Linked DNA regions of Homo sapiens: regions 1 and 2 are each linked to region 3. Evidence: fine-mapped expression QTL. A gene starts in region 3. Each other region holds a variant in brackets. All regions are shown on one strand. Distances are between the middles of the regions. Region 1 holds the start of LOC105374764 (a long non-coding RNA gene). Region 2 has its middle 98 kb from the start of MIR5192. Region 3 holds the start of B3GNT2 (UDP-GlcNAc:betaGal beta-1,3-N-acetylglucosaminyltransferase 2).

Evidence for each region.
Region 1: its variant is fine-mapped to the expression of B3GNT2 in whole blood (TOPMed, PIP 0.96).
Region 2: its variant is fine-mapped to the expression of B3GNT2 in whole blood (TOPMed, PIP above 0.99). The same link has a PIP of 0.9 or more in neutrophils.

What each region holds. Positions count from the first base shown.
Region 1 is chr2:62,411,280-62,419,635 of GRCh38, reverse strand. It overlaps LOC105374764 (a long non-coding RNA gene), which reads right to left and starts at 4,443. Exons shown (of 6, transcript XR_002959390.2): 1 at 4,207-4,443. RefSeq lists enhancers at 4,212-4,281, 7,442-7,631, 7,903-8,356. The variant A/G (reference allele first, on the strand shown) is at 4,468.
Region 2 is chr2:62,299,604-62,307,959 of GRCh38, reverse strand. No RefSeq gene overlaps it. Among named protein-coding and RNA genes, the nearest start is that of MIR5192, 98 kb to the right of the region's middle. RefSeq lists enhancers at 1,878-1,947, 1,988-2,057, 1,623-2,148, 2,149-2,676, 4,688-4,757 and 2 more. The variant A/G (reference allele first, on the strand shown) is at 4,115.
Region 3 is chr2:62,191,834-62,198,493 of GRCh38, reverse strand. It overlaps B3GNT2 (UDP-GlcNAc:betaGal beta-1,3-N-acetylglucosaminyltransferase 2), which reads right to left and starts at 2,379. Exons shown (of 2, transcript NM_006577.6): 1 at 2,139-2,379. LOC124906013 (a long non-coding RNA gene) reads left to right here and starts at 2,481. Exons shown (of 2, transcript XR_007086336.1): 1 at 2,481-3,355; 2 at 3,587-4,505. RefSeq lists enhancers at 984-1,093, 2,074-2,680, 3,287-3,894 and silencers at 1,504-1,853, 2,034-2,473, 2,764-2,993.

The DNA of each region.
Region 1 (8,356 bases), 220 kb before region 3:
TCTCTCCTTATCTCTAATTAATATTTGCTTTATATATCTGGGTATTCCAGTGTTGGGTACATATATATTTAACATTGTTATATCCTTTTGCTGAATTGACCCCTTTATCATTATATAGCGATCTTTGTCTCTTCTTATAGGTTTTTGTTTCAAAATATATTTTGTCTGATATAAGCATAGCTACTCCTGCTCTTTTTTGGTTTCTGTTGGCATGGAATATCTTTTTCCATCCCTTTATTTTCAGTGTATATGTGTCTTTATAGGTGAAGTGTGTTTCTTGTAGGCAACAGATCAATAGGTCTTATTTTTTCATCCATTCAGCCAGTCATTCTATGTCTTTTGATTGGAGAATTTAGTCCATTTACATTCAATGTTATTATTGATAAGTAAGGACTTATTCCTGCCACTTTGTTATTTATTTTCTGGTCTTTTTTGTCTCCTTCCTGTTTCCCTTTAGTGAAAATGGTTTCCTCTGGTGATATGATTTAGTTTCTTGCTTTTTATTTTTTGTGTATTAATTGTATGAGGTTACCATGAGGCTTGCAAATGCTATCTTATAGCACATTTTTTTTTGAGACGGAGTCTCGCTCTGTCCCCCAGGATGGAGTGCAGTGGCATGATCTCGGCTCACTGCAAGCTCCGCCTCCTGGGTTCATGCCATTCTCCTGGTTCAGCCTCCTGAGTAGCTGGGACTATGGGCTCCTGCCACCACGCCCAGCTAATTTTTTGTATATTTAGTAGAGACGGAGTTTCACTGTGTTAGCCAAGATGGTCTCCATCTCCTGACCTCGTGATCTGCCTGCCTTGGCCTCCCAAAGTGCTGGGATTACAGGCGTGAGCCACCGCGCCTGGCCATAACACATTATTTTAACCTGATAACAACTTAACACTCTGCATAAACAAACAAGCAAAAAGAAAACTAATAAAATCTCTATGGCTTAACTTCATCCCCCAGCTTTTTAAATTTTTGTTGTTTCTATTTATATATCTTTTTTTTTTTTTTTTTTTTTGAGACAGAGTCTCGCTCTATCACCTAGGCTGGAGTACAGTGGCATGATCTTAAAGCAATTCTCCTGCCTTGCCTCCTGAGTAGCTGGGATTACAGGAATGCACCACCACACCCAGCTAATTTTTGTATTTTTACTAGAGACAGGATTTCACCATGTTGGCCAGGCTGGTCTTGAACTCCTGACCTCAAGTGATCCACCCGCCTCAGCTTCCCAAAGTGCTGGGGTTACATGTGTGTGCCACTGCACCTGGCCTATTTTTATCTTATTTTACTGACTATGTCTTGAAAGGTTGTTGTAGTTATTATTTTTGACTGGTTCATCGTTTATTCTTTCTACTTAGGATAAAAGTAGTTTACAAACTACAGTTACAGTGTTATCATATTCTGTGTTTTTCTGTGTATTTACTATTGGCAGTGAGCTTTGTACCTTCAGATAATTTCTTATTGCTCATTAATGTCCTTTTCTTTCCAATTGAAATCTCCCTTTAGCATTTCTGGTAGGATAGGTCTGGAGTTGATTAAATCCTTCAGCTTTTGTTTGTCTGGGAAAGTCTTTATTTCTTCTTCATGTTTGAAGGATATTTCACCGGATATACTATTCCAGGGTAGTTTTGTTTCCTTCAGTATTTTTAATATGTCATGCCACTCTTTCTTGGCCTGTAAAGTTTTCTACTGAAAAGCCTGCTGCCAGATATATTTGGGCTCCATTGCATGTTATTTGTTTCTTTTCTCTTGCTGCTTTTAGAGTCTTTTTTTTATCCTTGACTTTTGGGAGTTTGATTATTAAATGCCTTAAGGTAGTCTTCTTTGGGTTAAATCTGCTTGGGGTTCTTGATTATTTACTTATTGACAATATTATTGTTTTCTGCTAATAACAAAACAACAGCCAGCTAGTTCTAGAAGCTCCTCATGCAGATTATAGGCCTCCTCCCTGGATGGCTGTTGGGTTAGATTACAAAGAATGATTTCTAATCCTCTATTTTATTATTATTATTATTATTATTATTTTGAGACAAGATGCTGCTCTATCACACAGGTTGGAGTGCAGTGGTGCCATTACAGCTCACTGTAGCCTCAAACTCCTGGGCTCAGGCAATCCTCCTGCCTCAGCTTCCCAAGTAGCTGAGACTACAGGTGCACTCCACCATGGCTGGCTAATTTTTTCATTTTTTTGTAGAGACAGGGCCTTGCTGTGTTGCCCAGACTGGCCTCAAACTTCTGACCTCAAGTGATCCATCTGCCTTGGCCTCCCGAAGTGCTGGGATTACAGACATGAGCCACCGAGCCCAGCCCAATCCTCTCTTTAAAAATGACTTTTCTTATTATCTTTTTTTTCTGACTAAAAAGGAAATTTCTTGTGTTAGTTTCCTATTGCTGCTATAACAAATTATCATACACTTAGTGGCTTAAAACAGCACAGATTTATTATCTCATAGTTCTGGAGGTCAGAAGTCCAAAATGGGTCTCTCTGGGCTAAAATCAAGGTGCAACAGGACTGTATTCCTTTTGGAATCCATTCACCTTTTGCACCTCCTAGAGGCTTCCACATGCCTTGGCTCATGGCCCCTTCTTCAAAGCCAGCCATGGCTGGTCAAGCCTTCCTCACATCATATCACATCACTCTGACATTCACTCTTCTGCCTCCCTCTTCCCCATTTTATTTATTTATGTATTTATTTTGAGACAAAGTCTTGCTCTGTCACCCAGGCTGGAGTGCAGTGGCGCGATCTCAGCTCACTGCAAGCTCCACCTCCCGGATTCACGCCATTCTCCTGCCTTATCCTCCTGAGTAGCTGGGACCACAATCGCCCACCAACACATCCAGCTAATTTTTTTTTTTTTTTGTATTTTTAGTAGAGACGGGGTCTCATCGTGTTAGCCAGGATTGTCTCAATCTCCTGACCTCGTGATCTGCCCGCCTCGGCCTCCCAAAGTACTGGGATTATAGGCGTGAGCCACCATGCCAGGCCCCTCTTCCCTGTTTTAAGGACCTTTGACATTGCACTGGACTCCCCTGGATGATCCAGGATACACTCCCCTTCTCAAAGGCAGCTGATCAGCAACCTTCATTCTATCTGTAGACGTAGTTCCCTTTTGCCATGTAAGCTAGCATATTCACAGGTTCTGAGGATTACGAGGTGGACATCTTTGATGTTATTATTCTGCCTACAACATACACATTCCTTGTAGAAAATGTAGGAATACAGAAAAGGCATAAAAGAAAGTACATGACACTTCTAATTCCACTTCCTGGAGATAACCACTGATGATGGCTTAGTGTATATTCTTCAAGTCTTTTGTTCAGTGCATATGTTTTTTTCTTTGTAAACTAGGTTTGCATGATAATATATAATCATTAATGTTAAATTACTATATATAGTGAATTACTAAATATATATAGTATTTAATATTAAATTACTAAACACTATATATATTACTAAACACTATATATAATAGTGTTATATATAAAAAATGTTTAGTAATTTTCCTTAATAATATGCATATATTCCCATGGAACTATATATTTTTCCACATTTCATTTTAATGGCTATCTAGCATTCTACTGTGTGGAATGTACTATAATTTATTTAACTAATTTAGTTAATTCTCTGTTATTAACCACATAACTTATCTCTAGCTTTTCTTTAAGCCTGGTACCCCTGTGGTAAACATCCCTAAATCTACATCTTTGTACATATTCTTAGGATACATTCCCTAAAGGCACACCAAAGGTTGGGTGATTATATCATTTATTCTACAAAGCAGGATTCTTTGAGAGTGAAAAAAGATAATATTAAAAATCCATAGTAATTAATAAATAACAATAAGCCAGGACTGTTCTGGGCGTGACACACATTGCCAGATTGGCCTCCTGAAATGTTTACACTCCCACGGGCAGCTACCAAATGTCCTTGCTCTAAGCCCTTGCCAATGCTGCCAGTCCTATACCCCTACACCCTCTTACTCTCTAGATCCCATCTTCCAAAAAACAACAACCACACACACTGCAAATACCATGAGAGCCCTCACTGGAGATGTGACAGTGGTTGGCAGAGCTGTTTCTCATGGCAGGGAGAGGACAAGTAAGTCTTTGCCCTGGTTAACAATGATTTGACATTTGGTGAGTTCATTTTGTCTTCTGATCCAGGTACATCCACTGGATTAGTTTCAAGGCAGCAATGACCTGCCTTCCTTACCTGCACACAGGCCCAGGTACAGGCTCAGCCAGAAGAGGAATCTCCCAGGAGGGCCTCTCCCCAGGCCCAGGCAGGGAAGCACTGCCATGGATAGCATCTGCCAGGACAAGCTGACCTGCACAAGAGACAGTCCACCGTGAAGAGCCGAGCATGAGTTGGCAGCTGCTGTCAGCTCAAATTGTCCAGTACGCAAACTTGGTCTTCAGAGGACTGACTTCCTCTTGGATAGAAGAACCCTCTGAAACCATGACTGTCAAGAAC[A/G]CACCCAAATAAAGCAGCTGCCGAAACCACAAAAACAGAAAGACTAGATTCATTGTGAAGATGTTTTCTAACATTCAAATGGGCTTTTGTTAGTTTTGTTTTTGATTTTGGTGGAGGTCATTTGAGTCTTGTTATCAAGGTTACAAAGTGCTCTCTGGGAAAAGATCCGGGCCCATTTACCAGGCTGCCTTGCCTGGCTTTGCTTCTCGGGTATGAAATGAACATTGAGAATGCAGACACTGAAGAAAAGACCTCAGGTATCTTTGACTTTTTTTTTTTTTTTTTTTTTGAGACAGGGTCTCAATCTGTCACCCAAGCTGTAGTGCAATGGCACGATCTAGGCTCACTGCAACCTCTGCCTCCCAGGTTCAAGCAATTCTCCCACATCAGCCTCCTGAGTAGCTGGGATTACAGGGGCGTGCCACCACACCCAGCTAATTTTTGTATTTCTAGTAGAGATGGGGTTTCACCATGTTGGCCAGGCTGGCCTTGAACTCCTGACCTCAAGTGATCCATCCACCCTGACTTCCCAAAGTGCTGGGATTACAGGCGTGAGCCACCATGCCCAGCCTATTTTTGACTTTCTGAGTCAAGTAACCAGATGAAACCAGTCCCCTTGTCCACCCAGAGTCCACTCAGGCTATACTTGATTCATACTTTTTTTTTAATTTTTATATTTTTTTTAGAGACAGGGTCTCATTCTGTCACCCAGGCTGGAGTACAGTGGCACAATCACGGCTCACTGCAACCTCGAACTACTGGGCTCAAGCAATCCTCCTGCCTCAGCCTCCCAATTAGCTAGGACTACAGGCACGTGCCACCATGCCTGGGTAATTTTTTAATTTTTTGTAGCAATGGAGTCTCACTATGTTGACCAGGCTGATCTCAAACCCCTGGTCTCAAGCAACCGGCTCCCTTTAGCCTCCCTAAGCACTAGGATTACCGGTGTGAGCCACCACACCTGGCCTGATTCATATGCTAGACTCATATGCTAGAAAAGCCAACCCCAAATGGGCCCTGATAGAGCAATCTTGTTGGGGACAGTTTTACTTGTAAGTAACTGGCTCCCTGACCTACAGAATATAAGCCTTCAGAAAAAGCTTCAGAAAAAGCTCAGCACCCTGCCTCTCTCCTCCAAATAATGTTCCAGGTGATATTCTGCAAGCACACCTGGAAACTTTGCTCTGTTTGTTAACCTAGAAAATTAAATGAGCAAGGGACAGAGCAGGCTGGCCTGGAACAGGGACTGGGTACAAACCAGATCTCCAAAGCTTGGGCTTATTCTCTGAAAGAAATGCTCTTTTTAATTTCAACTCTGATGTCTTGGTGGAGACATTCAACTGGAGATCTGGAGTCTTTGATATAAGCAAAGGCAAGCTTGTGGGATCACCACTGGCTACAGAAAGAAGCCCAGCTCTTTGGCAAAGAAAATCCTGGGCTCAGAGAGTGAAGAGTGTGTCAGATTTCTCACGTCAAAAGTCAGCTTTTGTATTCAGAATGGAGCCAGAAGGTCCTGAATCCAGAATGGCCTAGAGCCTCCCCACATGCTGTCCTAGCGGGGGCTTTAGCAGGTGGATTTTGATAAAGATAGCTTTGGATGCTAAGCATAGAAAAAAAGAGAAATGTTGGCTCTAGGCTGGGTATGGTGGCTCACACCTGCAATCCCAGCACTTTGGGAGGCCAAGGCGGGTGAATCACTTGAGTCCAGGAGTTCAAGACCAGGCTGGGCAACATGGCAAAATCATCTCTACAAAAAATACAAAAATTAGTCGGGCATGGGGTCACCCACCTGTAGTCCCAGCTACTAGGGAGGCTGAGGTGGGAGGATCAATTGAGTCCATGAGATCAAGGCTGCAGTGAGCCGTGTTTGCGCCACTGCATTCCAGCCTGGGTAACAGAGAAAGACCTTGTCTCAAAAAAGGAAAAAGAAAAAAGTTGGCTTTAGCACCTCGAACCCTAGATGACTTCCTGAGTGTCATATTCTTTGGCTGCTACTCTGGAGTCACATCTCAGGGAAGATCCAGACAGACGGCTTTGGTCTTTGTGTTTGTAGGTCCTTTTTCCCTCAGATACTCACCTGCCCTACTCCCTCACCTCATCTATGCCTTTGCACAGATATTAGCAGATATCTGTGCTGATAAAAGTTGCGACTGCACCAGGCACAGTGGCTCACACCTGTAATCCCAGCACTTTGGAAGGCTGAGGCAGGAGGACTGCTTAAGGCTAGGGGTTCAAGACCAGCCTGGGCAACACACCAAGACCTTATCTCTGAAAAAAAAAAAAAAAGTTGTAGCTCATCAATTACCCTATCTGAAATAGCCCTGAATCCCCTGCCTTATTTTCCTTTATTGCACTTGTTACTACATCCCATTATATTTTACATGTATGTGTTTAATATTTGCCTCCCTAGTTAAAATGTAAAGTGCATGAAAGGAGACATTTTTATTTATAGTCAGGTCCGCAGATCTTAGGACAGTGCCTGGCACATAATAAAAGCACAATAAATATTTGTTGAATGAGTCTTAGAGTTGAGTCAAACATCAGATAGCAGGTATTTCTACTGGGCAAATGTGGACTCACCCCAGAGGTGTGTAGAAGAGGGTGCAGAGTCTGGAGTAGTTTGGGGTGTAGGTGTCGGGGGAGAGGCAATTGTCTCGGGTGGAAACAAAATCCATGGCTTGTGCCCCTGCAGTTGCAAACACCATGAGTAGACGACAGAGAGAGAGAGAGAGAGAGAGAGAGAGGGAGGGAGGGAGGGGGAGAGAAAGAGAGAGAGAGAGAGAGAGAGAGGGAGGGAGGGAGGGGGGGAGAGAGATTGAGAGAGAGAGAGAGAGAGAGAGAGAGAGAGAGAGAGAGAGAGAGAGAGAGAGAAAACTAATTGTAATTCCTACTCATAGCCACAAGATGGCACTATTGCTCAGAGTCTTTACTCTGAAAAGCCGAATCTAGCAGAATCTAGCAGTCTAGTTTGGGATTCCTTGCTTCTCTCCGTCTCCTCCCGTTTCTCTCTCCGCTTTCCTCTCTTTTGTCTTCCTCTCCCTTCGTTTTTAAACACTGCTTTTATGGTGGACTTGAGCAATAGTATAGGAGAAGCCATTGGTGCTCAGAGAGAGATCCCCGAGATGGATATTTGGCCACACTAGGCACAATGGTTTGCTCACTGAGCACGGCCGGAAGGCCTGGCTTCACCAGCTTCCTCTTCTCTCTGGCCAGAACCCACAGCCTTGCTGTTCTGGACCTGGCCCGTGGCTTGGGAAGCCTCCAGGGACAATCTTGCTTCTCCCTCCCTTACTCCATCCTCCCCACCCCATAACATGCTTATCTGGGAAGCACCTGCCCTCAGATCTGGTTCCAGGGGTCCTTGCTTTCCACTTGAGAAACTGTAAACACGCACAGAATGTCTCCTGGTGGGGGTTCTGAGGCCTTTTCCTCCCTGGTATTTTAGCCTAAGGAAAAAGCATTCAGTGGTGTGGGGATGGTGGGTGGAGCTTGCGGTATTTTTCTAAGACTTTTGCAGTTGGGGAACAAATCTCCAGGGAAGGGGCAGGGCCTCGGGCTAATTCCAGTACAGTAGGATCAGGGCCATGAAAACATCACACAAAGGAAACTTCAAAGCTCTTCCCCAGTCTGAATGGGCAGGGCCTGCTGAGAGGTCAGATGTTAACCTGATCCAAATGCCCTCTTGCTTTCAGGTGCCCCTCGCAGGCCTGCACACCCCTAGGGGATCCACCCTCTCCCAGGTCAGAATTCCACAGGGCCCTGAAGCTTCCTTACGCAGTGCTCCCCATCCCTGTGCTTGAAGCAAAGCCAGGGAGGGCAGAGCCCAGAAGTTGGGATCTGGTTCTGACTGTTCTCTGGCCTTAGGAGTAGAGGCCAATTTCATCTCTGC
Region 2 (8,356 bases), 110 kb before region 3:
TGGATAGCGCTCCGATCCTTGATAAAGGGCCTTTCCAACTAATCTCAGGGACCACTCCTACAAGAATCACATAAGCATGGCAACTGCTCCCTGCCTTCTACAACTTCCTGGCTGGCACAGATCAGGGACTCGCCCACAGGTCTCCTTGCTAGGCAGGCTCCTCGGCCCCTCCCTGGTGCCCTGTCAGCTCTAGGCTTTCTTGCCCCCTCATCAGGCAGTGCCTACCCACCCCTCATAGAAACCCACATGTACAGAGGGACTCAGGTTCAAGGCCTTCTCTTTTTTGGTTGCCCCGTAGATAAGCACTCATGGCATTTTAGTTTTGTAAGTTTCACAGCAGATAATTACAGGAAAACAGATAGGGGATGGTCAAAAGAGCAAATCCCAGGAAGGTGCGAAGTCCTCCCAGGCTGGTCCTGACTTTCTGGGAATAGGAAGTGTTACTCCTGAAGACTGTGGCGATTCATAGGACTTTTATATTGAACATGGGACCAGGACACCGAGAGGCAGGTCAGCCCTGGAGAAATTTCAGCCAGTGCTAGTTTCCTGTCAGGAAGGGCAGGGGAGAAATGGGCAGCTTCCACTCTTCACAAAGGATAGCAGTGAATGAACTCCACTGCTACAGAGACAAACCCCTCAGGTCCTGGCTGAAGACAGACGAGGCAGCCAGCAATCTCAGATGCCTTACCTATTTCCAGGGGACAGGGGGCTGGACACAGAGAGGAGGGTCACCAGCCTGGCACAGAGAACACAGAGAGCAGAAAACTGAGCCAAGAAGGCTGCCCCCTCCAAGTGTTTACCTGAAATATTCACAAACATGATGAGTCACAGAAAGAAAGCAGAAAAACCAGTAAGATGTGTAACCAGATTCTCTTCCACAAAGCAAGGAGAAGTTGTGGCAATAATGCCAGTGGGCACGGTGTGCTCTGCTGAGGGCCCTGCTTGAGAAACCTGTGTCTCCACCACACTTTCGGCCTCAGCTAAGGTTGAGAAGGGAAACTGACAACTGTGCCAGGGCAGGAAAGTCCCTGCAGGAAGCCTGCTGCTGGTCTGGGTTACCAGGGCAACTGGCAGCTGCTCTCTTCTCTTGAAAGAGAATGGACTTGGGAGGCCCAGATGGGCTCTGCCCTAGTAGCCCAAATAAGAAGGCTTAACCTTAGACAGCATCAAATAACATCGGAGTACGCCGCCCCCACAGCACTTCCCATGCATCCCCATCTGATTTCATCTACCTCTCAGGAGAGCCGGGTGCAGGGTGATTATAACCATTCCATTCCACAGTGGAGAAAACTGAGATCCGGAGACACTAAGTCACTTGCTTAGATTTACATGACTAAGAATTAGTTTGGATCCATCTGGGCATGGTGGCTCACACCTATAATCCCAGCACTTTGGGAGGCTGAAGTGGGCGGATCACTTGAGGTCAGGAGTCCGAGACCAGCCTGGACAACATGGTGAAATGCCATCTCTACTGAAAATACAAAAACAAAAACAAAAACAACCAACCAAACAGACAAAAAACTAGCCAGGCTGGGGGCTTATGCCTGTAATCCCAGCTACTTGGGAGGCTGAGGAAGGAGAATTGCTTGAACCCGGGAGGTGGAGGTTGCGGTGAGCCGAAATCGCACCACTGCACTCCAGCCTGGGTGACAGAGGGAGACTCTGTCTCAAAAAAAAAAAAAAAAAAAAAAAAATAGAATTAGCTTGGATCCTACCTGAGTCTTTAAACACCAAGTCTAGTGAACATCCCCCTACACAGTCTGGCTGCCGAATCAAGAGCTTGGGTTTTTTCAGTGCTCTCATATCTATGAATGCATGCATTCTGTTTGCAAAATACCAGGCATGGATCATACCCCTCTTCATCTCCCACATCAGAGATGTGAAACGGCCGTGCAAGGAGGCAGGGCTGCCACGGCAGCAGTTTGAGTGGGTAGCCAACATCTGACCGAGACTCGAATCCAGAGCTTTTTCCATGACACCAGCTGGCTGCCTTGCCCCTCACCACATCTGGAAAAAATGACTCAGGTGACAGCAGGCTAATCATGTCATCCTTGTGACTGCAGGTGCCACGTCGTTTATGAAGCACTTTAAAGTGGGAACGCTTGCCCTGGCTTTCCCCCAGGCCTTTATTAAGTAAAGGTCATGCTGTTTGTTAAGATTTGAGCACACTGGTGGCTGGCTCACAGGAAAGAGCTTCATAAGCTGTGCCTGAGATAAGGTTGCTTCTGGAGGCCTCTCTGCAGAGAAGAGCGAAGCCCACCCCCACTGCCTGGCTGGTTGGATAATAAGACTCAGAAGCTCCAGTTCTCCCTGTCCCGTCTGGCCTCTGTGAATTGTCTGACTGCACTGCCACTTTTCTCACCTGCCTGAGGTTACTGTCCCAGAACCACCTGACCGCACAAGAAAGGCGGGAGCAAAGATAGGTTCAGGCCCAGAGATGGTTTCTAGTCTCCCTCTGTGATGGTGATTTTTCTGGCTGCAAGAGGTTTCCAATCCTGTCTCCACCAATGATTCCACAACTTTCCCTCATTCTCTGTGACTCTGGATTCCAGACTCAGGGCCCCGAGGTAACCTGAAGCCTCTCATCTGGTCATTGCACTAAAACCTTGGCTAGGGCAGGTGGCTTCCTTCTATGCCCAGATCAAAGGCGTGAGCAATGCCCTCAGCAGCTTCCCCAAGGCAGTAACAGGAAATAATCCTCCTCACCAGCCCCTCCCACCCACACTGTCCCAGCAGGTGGTGTTTGCAGAGGTAGCACCAGGTAAGGCAGGTGGCAGGGGAGAGGAACTGGATTGAAACCTCAGTTGGCCTCAAGCCACCCACTGCTCCCACCTTTCTTGTGTGGCTAGGATGTTCTGTAGCACAGACCACAGGTACGTGAGAAAAGTGGCAGTCCAGTCAGACACAGAACCTGCAAAGCCACATAGGAAGGGGAGAACTGGAGCTTCTGAGTCTTATTATCCAATCAGGGAGTTGGGGTGGGATTGGTTCCTCTGCAAAGAGGCCTCCAGAAGCCAGCCTTATCTCAGGCATAGCCTTGGGAACCATTTCCTGTGAGTCAGCCGCCAGCGTGCTCACATTTTAACCATGTTGGGCAGCATTCGCAGGCCGCCTGTTGTGAGGCAAGAAGCCTCCGCTGTTCTGGAGGAAGCCCACGTGGGGTGATTCTGAGCAAAGTCATTATGGGTCCTGTTAGGAAACATTAATTGTGTTTATGGGTAGAACCGCCCCCAAACAAATTAGACACATGTTCTAAGGTGTCCATTTTTTAAAATCTTGGTTGAGGTTGCCCTTTGGCTCCTGGGTGACATGAGTGCTTTGTTGTCCAACATTTGTTCCTGGGAGATGGGGTTACCAGAGGTTGGAAGACCTGACCCTCTCCTCACCTCAGGCTGGAGGAAAGGCTGTAACGATGCGCTGGGAGGGAACAATGCTGCCTAGACGGGCCTGAGGCTCTGACAACAAAACACTCAGACTGGACACTAAGATGGTGGTTTATTTTCTCAGAGGGGAAAGGGTCAGACCACACCTTCAGGTGTGGAGGGAGGAGGGAGATTGCCCCTAACAGAAAGGGGTGTCCTCATGGTCTGTCATCCCAAGGCAGGCAAGGAAGAGTGTTGTGGGCTGGAAAGGGAGGGATTTCTTCCTCTCTCTGTGGAGAAAGGGGGCCTGTATATTGCTGTTGGTGGGAGCTAAAGTGGCCCCTGCCAAATGGAGGCCTTTGGGTACAAGACACTTCTCCTCTGGAGGCAGATGGAAATTTCTAAGGCTGCTTTCTTTATGCCCCAACTCAGTGGAACCTGTGGTCAGATGAGCTGTGGGGGGTTGGGGAGGGCAATGTCTCCTTCCCAAGGCCTGGCAGAGTCACTAAGTCGCCAGTCCCATAAGCTACAGAGGCAGAATCATGGCAGCAAGAAGAAAAGGGTAGAGTGAGAGTGAGAGATACTTTCTGGAGCTGTGCAAAGCTGTCCCTGGGAAACTTTCAGAAATACTCGGGAGGGGAACTCTATGGTTAGGTAGAGTTAGATGTAGGAAGGAAGTATAATTTCACTTTAGAGTTGGTAAAGTTTCAACATAGGTTAATTGCATATGAAACACTCATTTCAAAGATGAA[A/G]TAACCAGGGGTTTGGAGGCCTGAGAAAGAGAAACCATGAGACGGGGGTCTTCTGTCTGAGAAGCAGGTGCAACCCTCTGGCGGTAGCAAAGACCCAGGAGTTCCTGGGGTCTTGCGTGGAGCCTCGACAGCACATGTGCCTGGATTTTGGGTAAGGGTGGCACAAGCGAGGCCAGAAGCACCCCTCCTTCTCCCTGGCACATCATAAGGTGATCAAAGAATAATTTTTTTGAAAAAAGTCAAAAGCTGGCAGGGTGCAGTCGCTCATCTCTGTAATCCCAGCACTTTGGGAGGCTGAGGCGGGCAGATCACCTGAGGTCAGGAGTTTGAGGCCAGCCTGGACAATAGGCTCTACTAAAAATACAAAAATTAGCCGGGCGTGGTGACGGGTGCCTGTAGTCCCAGCTACTTGGGAGGCTGAGGCAGGAGAATTGCTTGAACCTGGGAGGCAGAGGTTGCAGTGAGCCAAGATTGTGCCATTGCATTCCAGCCCGGGTGACAAGAGTGAAACTCCATCTCAAAACAAAACAAAAACAAAAAAGTCAAAAGCTAACCAGAGGCAACCACACATGGAAAATAGTACAACCTTATGACATAAGACTGAAAAGGTGTCAAGAGGGAAGAAATAGAGGGTCTCAGAATGGAATGTTAGCTGTCTCTCTCCCACACACATAGCTGAAGCCAAATGAGGGAAGGTAAGAGAACAGGATCCCAAGAAGGGTCACCAGCACCTCTCAGTTCGGCACAAAGAGGGCCAAGATGCTAAAGGCAGCCTGGGGAGTCCAGGAGAAGCTCCAGAGAGGAGGAGCCCCTGGGCACCATCACAGAAGCCAGCAGCGGCTGGAGGAGTGGCTGGCTGGACTTGCTGCTGTTCAGAACTCTGTGCTGTCCAAGGGAATGAGCTGAAGTCCCAGGAGGGGACATGTGCCTGCCAAGTGGAGCAGACCCAGGTGTGGGATGCTAGCCCACGTCAGGAGGGAGCCAGGCCCAGCTCTGTCCTTCACCTGTCCATGTGACCCTCAGAGCTCAGGAAGCAGGAAGGAAGTACCACCCAGTCCCCAAACTCTAGTATTGAGGAAATGACAGGTAGCTAGAAAAGGTGTCAAAAAGAATTCGTCCTCACACTCTCAGAGCGTTAGATAGTCTGATCAGACTTACCTGTGCAAAATTAAAAGAGACAGCATGAAGGCTAAGCCAACATACTAGATTTTAAAAAAGAAGAACACCAAGAAGGAGAAGGCAGAGTAGGAGAAAGAAGAGAAGGAAAATAAGCAAGAAACAGGCTGAGTGCGGCAGCTCATGCCTGTAATCCCAGCACTTTGGGAGGGTAAGGCAGGAGGATCACTTGAGCCCAGTAGTTCGAGACCAGGCTGGGCAACATAGTGAGACCCTGTCTCTATGAAAAATAGAAAAAATGACCAGGGTGTAGTGGCGCACGCCTGTAGTCCCAGCTACTCTGGAGGATAAGGCAGGAGGATCAATTGAGCACAGGAGGTGGAGGCTGCAATGAGCCATAATTGCACCCCTGAACTCCAGCCTGGGTGACAGAGTGAGACTCTGTCTCAAAAACGAACAAAAAAAGCAAGAAACACAACATGAAAAAGATAAACATATCCAGATATCTAGATTGGGAGAAATCTCTCTCCCAAGTACAGAAGAAAACTCCTGAGAATGCTTCACATTGTAGAACAAATAAGAATATATAATACTTAATTAATCATTTTAATTTAATAGTTAATTATATTAATTTAACAATTAATAATTTGTATTAACTTGGTATATAATTAATTTTAAAATATTTAATATGCTTTTGAAATTTAGTAAAACGAGAACCCAAAGATGACTTGATAAGTCTACCAAGTGAAATGCAAAGGAAATTCAGAGCTAAGGAAAAAAATTCAGGATGAAAACAAGAGCTTTATAGAGCTATTAGATAAATTAGAAACATCAAGGAAGCTTGAAATTTTCCCAGCTCAGGAAAATCTTGAGATAATTCTAGTGAACATGGAAGAAAATGACAAAGCAATTAAAGTAGTTAAGAAGATGTTGGATGTATGGAGGACAAACACAAATCAACGTAAGGATAATTACTATTGAATTTCAGGTCAACATGTTGAGCACAGGGTGAACTCCCCCTACTGCTGTCATCTCCTATTGCAAATGCATAGAAAAACTTAATAAAATATAAAAATATATTTTAGATTGATATGTCCAAGCTCCATGCAAGAAAGGGAAATCTCCAGGGACAGAGTAGGAACAAAGTCATACAGGCATCCCTCAGGCATAGTGCCAGTTTAGTTCCAGACCACCACGCAGTAAATATCATGATAAAGCAAGTCACAAAAATTTTTTGGTTTCCCAGTGCATATAAAAGTATGTTTACCCTATACTGTGGTTTATTAAGTGTGCAATAGCATATGTCTAAACAATGTACATACCTTAATTAAAAGATAATATTGCTAAAAAATGCTAATGAAGTGAGCACGTGCTGTTGGAAAAATAGCACTGATAGACTTGCTCCACGCAGGGTTGCCACAAACCTTCAATTTGTAAAAAATGCAATATCTGCAAAGTGCAATAAAGCAAAGTATAATAAAATAAAACATGCCTGTAAATGGGAGCTAAAGCCGGAAGACCCACAGGGGACTCAGACTGGATGAGCTGTGGTTGCAATTTCAATGCGTCATGAGCCCCACATGCAGCAGGAAGCCATGAGTCCAGGAGGCAGGACCATGCCACCCCTTCAGGAAGAGGGCTGCCCAAGGTTGTGGCTGAACACAAGCCATCTGCCCAGCTATCAGTGGAAACAGTCAACAGTCCTGGTCCACTAGCCATAGACTTGGTTTGAAGTCAGTGCTCTATTCCATAGGACAACACTGAAACCTCCTCACCGGAATCCTTCTTCTAAAACCCAGACCACACAGTGGAGAAGTCCCAAGAAAGATGGCTCCCATGAAAGACAAGCTCATAGGCAAGAATTACACACCCTATAAGGAAGATCAACAACACTAAAGGCAGTTTTCAGACCCCCCCAAAGAAGAAAATTTATACTTAAGGAACTAGAGATAATAGACAATCTTGAAGGGGGTTTTAAAATGTATACATAAAACTTCAGGGAACTAAATGAAAGAATAGCCATCACAAATAAGAACAGATGGTTATGAAATAAAAATAGGCAAATACGTGAAAAAGTATACATATTAGAAACGAATAATGCAGTTATTGAGGTAGCTGGATGTCTTATTTATGTTTTATAGGTGTGTGAGTTTTTTATACACAAACATTCACATGTACATATACAGAAAAAGATTGGAGGGAAATACATCAAGTGGTAAGTAATAGCTAACTCTGAGAATAGGACTAGGGGTGTTTTAATTTTCTTCTTTTTGCCTACCTGTAACTTCAAACTTTTTTGTTACAGTGAATATGTAATTAAGAAAAGAAAAAAATCACTAAGAGACATATTTGTTTTTTAATTTTTAACTTTTATATTTTTGTAGGGACAAGGTCTCTCTATATTGCCCAAGCTGGCCTCAAACTCCTGGGCTCAAGCAATCCTCTCGCCTCACCCTCTCAAAGTGCTGGGATTACAAGTGTGAGCCACTGTGCTCAGCCTAAAGACACATTTTAATTTCACAATGATGAAGGATGTATACCTACTATGTACCCTCAAAATTAAAAATTGAAAAAAAAAGCGAAGGCAGAGTTGGTAGTGCTTGGACTCAGTCAATATCACCACATGTAAAATGATCATGAATTAAACCAAGAGATATTAATAAAATTTTATTATACTACATGAAAATAGTTGAATAAGATTTGAACAAATGTTTAGAGCATATTGGGATTGTCTGACCTTATTTAGGATCAAGGTGATACCCAAAATAATTCACTTCAAAGAGTGAGGCAGGCATCCTCCAGAGTGTCTACCACTGAGACCCAGTGAGAGGCCCTGGTGGAGAAGGGAGGTTCTGCGCCAAAGAAGCCAAGCAGTAATTTTGAATGTGAGCTGCACATAAAAAAATCATACAGGGCTGGGCGCAGTGGCTCATGCCTGTAATCCCAGCACTTTGGGAGGCAGAGGCAGGGGGACCACTTGAGGTCAGGAGTTCGAGACCAGCCTGGCCAACAAGGCAAAACCCCGTCTCTACTAAAAATAATACAAAAAAATTAGCCAGGCGTCGTGGTGTACACCTGTAAGCCCAGCTACTCAGGAGACTGAGGCAAGAGAATCACTTGAACCCA
Region 3 (6,660 bases):
GGCTACCACAGGGTTACTGTTTTTGGTAAGGGGAAGTCGATGCCAGGAGGAACTTCTCTATTGATTACAGCAATGACCACCATTTATTAAGCACTTCTTAGCTCTCCTGGTGCAGTGCTAGGAGTTTGGCAAACATCCTATTTGTCCTCAGAAATAATCTTGCAGAGCAAACACCACCATCCCCAAAACCAGATGTGTAAAATGAGGCTCAGGTGAAGAATAACTTGCCCAAGATCACTGAATTAAATGTGGCAGAATCAAGTCTAATGAATGGCAAGGGTGAGAACTGGTCAGTTTCACAGAGAATTAGGCCTTCATCATACAAATGCCGCCTGCACAAAAACTAAATGAGAAACAGTGAACCCTTGCTGTAGGGAGAAAAAGCAATATTCCGAACTAAAAAAGTAGTTTCAAACAGAAGATCTAATGATAAACACATTTGTAAAGTCTGAGCAGGGAGGAAAAGGATTACTCAAATTACTCAAGTACAGCCCTATGGGGCTCCTTCACTTCTGTGTTCTTAAAATCTAATCTGGTTTAAGAGCGCATGGGCTCCGAGTAAAACTCTCCCAAATTCCTCCAGGCTTAACCACCCTCTACTCAAAAGAACCAGGAGCAGGAGTTAGGACAATGGGAAGTGACCGCCCTGCCCTGCCCTGCCGGTCCTCCCTCCGGGTCAGCTGTCAGATCCGCATGGGTGCGACTATAAGCCGGCACCGGAGCCCCGGGACTGGCTCGGCCAGGGTCCCCGCCTTTTCACTCCCAGTCCCGGCCCTGTCGGCCACCTCGTTTACCACCTCCAGAGGCACAAATAATTATACCGGAAGAATTTGTTTTAACAAGTAGAATTCTATATTCACCAACTGGCTTCGCTATCGGATATTACGGTAGGGTTCCAACAAGAGAAGGGCAAAAGAATATAGTTTAATTGTTCTAAACAATCTTTCTGAGAAGTTGGGGTGGCTGAGGCGGCCACGGGGATACAGCTCAGGCACCTGTGAGCTAAGCCCACTCTACAAACTAACCACCCCTACGTTTTGGGCAGAAGAGCGCCGCCTCGCCAACCCAGGTTATAAATGTACATATTTTTAAAGATGAGCTTTGACGCTGTGACACTTGTGGGGAGTCTCCCGACGGCTCCTCTACTTGATGGGGGTACAGGGAGTTCTGCGGCTCCCCAGCCCCGAGTTTCAAATACCGTGGCCTGGAAATTAACCGGGTGACTCGGTTTATTGCCTCCAGAAGGGTCCGCCTGCCGTGCTGGAGTAGCCGCCAGTCCCGCGCCCGCAGCCCCGGCAGGGCCCCCCACGCCCACCTTCCCACGAGGGGTGTCTCGTAGAGTCCGGCTTCAGGCGCTCCCTGGCCTGGCAGCACCCACCCCACCCCGCCCCACCCCACCCCCACGACTCGGGCTAGCAGCCTGGTTAATCATTCAACGCAAACAGTGTGGAATATTTTTTTTAAAAGGTCAAAGCGAAAGGTTTTCCCTAAGTTTGGCAGAAACCAGTTTTGGGGGAGCCGGAGACAGAAGTGGCAGAGGTTGGGGGTGGGGGGTGGGGAGCGGCTGCCGGCGGCTCTTTGGCTCACAAAACACCTGATCTCCCCATGCGGCACGGGAGGCCGGCGCAGTGCGAGGGTGGGGTGCGGGGGTGCGAGCGAGGAATCACGCGCGCCCCCCTCCCCGAAATGCCCGCGCGCCCCGGATGAGGAGGCCCGGCCCCAGATGCCCCTTGCCAAAGCCCGCATCGCCCCGGCGCCGGATCCCCCGGAAGTTGGGGTGCAGCGAGGAGGGGGAAGGTCCCCGGGCTCCAGGGCGAGGTGGGCACGGAATGGGTTGGGAGGTTCCAAAGCCCCGCAGCGGGCGGTGTCCCTCTCCTCTCCCTCTGGGCTGAGGTTGGGTGGCTGGGACGGCGGGAAGGTAAGGGAGGCTTAAATGCGGCAGGAGCCACCTAGGGACGGCTTCCTCCACCGGGGCGCGGGTACGAAGCCGGAACCGGCGAGGAACCGGGCGGGGGTAGCAGGGTGTCCGGAAGGTGGGGCCGGGAAGCAGGGAGGCGGAAGGGGACTGGTAGAGGGGCCTGGCGGTGAGAGGGCAGCGGGGAGGGAGCCGGCGGGGGTGCTCGGCGCCCGGGCCCTACCTTGTCCGGGAGCAGCTCCAGCTCGGCGGGGCGGGGGCAAGGGCGGGAGATCGCGGCCACATCCACGTCCCGGCCGCTCCGCGCGGCTCAGCCCGGCGACCGCCGCAGCTCACGCTCCATGCGCGGCGCCCCGGACGGGCGGCCCGGCGGTGTCGGCGGCAGGGACTGCTCCGGCTTGGCTCTGCTAGCCTCCGGCACTTGTTGCCGCTGCTGCCGCTGCCGCTGCGCCTCACTCCAGGCTCCGGTTCCAGGCGCAGCAGCCGCCGCGGGCGCCCGGCCCCGCCCCTCCCCTGCCCGCCCGCCAATGGGGCCCGGCCCCGCCCCTCACGTCACCGCCCGACGGCCCCGCCCCGCGCCCCAAGTTTTGGGAGGGTTCCGCTCTCCCCACCCGGTACCAGGACCCACCCGGGCCCGCGCTCCCTGCGGCTTCCAGGGACCCTCCAGCCCCCACGCACCCTCCTGCAAAGCCGAGGGTTAAGCTGGGGAAAGGGGGCCTCTAGGAAGGCGACCCCCCTGGAAATGCCTGGCAGCTCCAAAAACACTAATGAAACTCAGCTCCAGCCTCCGCCCCTCCAGTTGTGGGTGGCCCCTCTTGCGGTTCGTCTGAGGCTAGGGGACTAGGCGCATCGCCTAGCGAGACTCCAGTGGCCTTTTCTGTCCAGTTTGTAACCGGAACTAGACCGACCCCGGCCGCCCCCTCCAGTGCTGGGGCGGGTGAGGAATGGCCCCGCCGGGGAGGCGGGGGAGGGAGGCCTGGGCCACCCTGGGGTCTGACCTTTGCTCCACCTCTTAGGTGCTCACGACCCAGAGTGGTGCCCTGCTTGGTACTGCCACTGGATCCTCTGGCTTATGAAGCCGTCCAGGACAGGAAGGGTGGGGGGTGGTCCTTAGTTCTCTTCGTGGGGTCATGCAGAGTGGTTTCCTCGAGGTCCCACGCCCGTCTCAGGAAGCCAGAAACGCAAGATGCCGGGCGCTCGGCCCGAACCCGTGCCGCGGCCCAAGGGGCAAGGCGGATACCGAGGCAAGGCCTAAAGGGCCGGACTCTGACCGCACCCTCCGGACACTGCAGGGCTCCGCCGGCCAGAGGCGGCCTTGGCGCCAACCACACCTAGCAGCGGGGTCCCCGGGCCCACCGATGCGCCCTCCTAGCCCCGCGCTCCTTCGAGGGGTTCCAAGGTGACTCAGAGACGCAGCTGACACAATTCTGAGGCCCCCAGGTAAGCCTGGCGATACCGGATGGAGAAGTTACCTGGTCTTGAAAGGCCCAGTCCAGCCAGCGAGACCCGCGTGCGCTCCGCGGGGAGGCAAGCCTAACCAGGGGCTCACCTGGAAGCGTCCCCGCCCCCTGGTCCTTATCTCTGAATCGAAACCGAACCTGGACCCATCTAGATAATTGGACTGAGCAATTAAGGACGCTTCGCTCCTAACTGTTAGCATTTTTTCCTAAGGCTCTCGGAGGCGGAATCAGCTGGAAAGGAACATTGCTAAGTAGGAATTTCAGGCACCTGTGAACTGAGCCCACTCAATAATCGGCCCTTTCCCTTAACCAAACTCAGCAAAGGAAGAAAGACCAAGTTGCTGCGGATGCACAGAGCCACGTGGGTGCGGGTCCTCTAGAAACAGGAATTCAGAGTCAGTAGATATGGAAATGTTATGGTTTGCAGTCTTCGGACCATGCTGCTTTCATGCTGTTCACATGATTCTCCTCGGACTGCGAGGTAAAGTCCAAGAAACAAGTCGAATGTTTGTATTTTCATAGAAAAAACATCTGTAAGGGTGCACACCGACTGTTAACCACGGTTACGCGGGGAGGGGAAACAAGGGAGTTACATTTTTTTACTCCCTTGACTTTGGATTTTGTATTTTTCCAGTTGTATTTACTTTCATAATTTAGAAAGCTAATAAAACATGTTTAAAGAAACAGAAGCTAGAAATTCTCTAAGAACTCTAGGAAGTAGAGGCCGGGCGCGGTGGCTCACGCCTGTAATCCCAGCACTTTGGGAGGCCGAGGCGGGTGGATCACAAGGTCAGGAGTTCGAGACCTGTCTGGCCAACATGGTGAAACCCTGTTTCTACTAAAAATACAAAAATTAATGGTGACATGTACCTGTAATCCCAGCCACTTGGGAGGCTGAGGCAGGACAATCGCCGAACTCAGGGAGGCGGAGGTTGCAGTAAGCCGAAATCGTGCCACTGTACTCCAGCCTGGGTGACAGAGTGAGACTCTGTCTCAAAAAAAAAAAAAGAACTCTAGGGAGTATAAATTAATAAATGAAGTCTATGTCTTCATTCTGTATCAAAATAATATTGAGTCCATGTTCCTGGGTTTAAATAAAGATATCTCTAGGCTGCTGTCTGATATTTAAATGCAGTGTTGAGACAAAGCGGACATCTAAGGAAGATTTTCTGTGCCATCAGATTGGTATATTGTTTCCATGCATATGTGTCTTCCCTTTAAATGCACTCCCTGTAGCCACAGACATGCTTGCAAGAACGGCCAGCCAAGGAGTTTATAGTAAAGGAGCTGCTACAATGTCAGCTGGCAACCAACTAGGAAATTAAGCTTGTGTCCCTCGCTGCCCAAGGCTGCCCAGGCCATGAAATTTAAAAATAAGGGTATTCTTAGGCCAGGCACGGTGGCTCATGCCTGTAATCCCAGTACCTTGGGAGGCCAAGGTGGGCGGATCACTTGAGGTCAGGAGTTCAAGACCACCCTGGCCAACATGGTAAAACCCCGTCTCTACAAAAAATACAAAAAAATTAGCCAGGTGTGGTGGTGGACACCTGTAGTCCCAGCTACTTGGCAGGCTGAGGCAGGAGAATTGCTTGAACTCGGGAGGTGGAGGTTGCACTGAGCCGAGATCGTGCCACTGCACTCCAGCCTGGGCGACAGAGCAAGACTCCGTCTCAAATAAATAAGGGCATTTTCTCCATGGTGGCTTTAACACAGTTGGGAGTATATCTACAATAGTTACCTTGTGTCTTTTGGGGAGTAACTCAATGCTAGATTCCACATCGCTTGGCTATAGTCCCTACTGTTAGGTTGGGACCCAGGTCCATCATCAGTAGGCAGAGATGTGTTATTCACTTATTCAACAAAAATGTACTGGCCATCCTCTAGATGCAGCACAGGACTAGGCGCTGGAGTGGTGAACATGGCAAACACACTCCCTGCTTGGAGCTCACAGTCTAGCTGGAGAGAGGGGCTTAACAATTAAATGCACTATTAATTAATTACAATTGTGATATGGGCCACAGGGAGTGCAAGGTGGTGAGATCATCTGGGGAGTCCATGAGGAGTTCCTGGCTGGTTCAGACTATAAAGGAAGAAGTGGTTGAGGAGGAAGTTAGAGAGGCAGGCAGGGGTTAGATCACGCAGGGCCAGTACACCACATTACAGAGTTTGGACTTTATCCTGAGACATTTGAAACAAGAGTCATACACTCAATTTTGCATTTTGAAGTAGATCACTCTGACTGCAGTGTGAAGAAGGAATAGGGAAAGGGGAAGAATGGAATGGAGGGACAGTTAGGAGGCTGTTGCTATAATGTGAGAGGGGCCATTTGTTTAAGCAGTAGAGCAAATGTAGAGAGGTAGACACCAACGAGACTTGGTAATTGCTTAGGGGGGATGAATCAAGGAAAACTCCCAGATCTCTGCTTCTTTAACCAGATGGATGGTGGTGCCATTTTCTGAGTTGGAGAACCCTCTCAAGGTTCAAATTTGGTCAAAGTAGGTTTGAGGTGCCTGTGAGATGTCCGGGTGGAGATGTTGAACAGGTGGTTGGCTGCAGGGTCTGGGGCTCTGAGGAGAGGCTGGGGCTGGAATAGCTGGTGTGGCAGTGGTAATGAAGTCACCAGAGGCTTGTGGGCTCCTATGAGAGTGTACAATTAGATCAGAAGAGGACCTACCACTGAGCCTTGAGGAACTCTTATCTAAGGGCCAGACAGAGGCAAACCTCTGGCAGAGGAGGTGGAAGAGCAGCCAGAGAGGCAGGAGGAAAACCAGGAGCTTGGCCAGGTGCAGTGGCTCACGCCTGTAATCCCAGCACTTTGGGAGGCCGAGGCAGGTGGATCACCTGAGGTCAGGAGTTTGAGACCAGCCTGGACAACATGGTGAAACCCCATATTTACTAAAAATTAGCTGGGCGTGGTGGCAGGCGCCTGTAATCCCAGCTACTTGGGAGGTTGAGACAAGAGAATCGCTTGAACCCAGGAGGTGGAGGTTAAAGTGAGCCGAGTTCACACCATGCACTCCAGCCTGGGCGACAGAGTGAGACTCTGTCTCAAAAAAAAAAAAAAAAAGAAAAAACTAGGAGTTTGGGGAGGTGGGGGTCACAGAGTCCAGGGACAAAAGCACTCTAAGCAGGAGGCAGTAGTCAACAGCACTCAAAATGGGTGACAAAAGATGTGTCTAGTGGCACACACCTGTAGTGTCAGCTACTCAGGAGACTGAGGTGGGAGGATAGCTTGAGCCCAATTTGAGGCCAGCCTGGGCAACATAGCGAGACCCCCATGTCTTT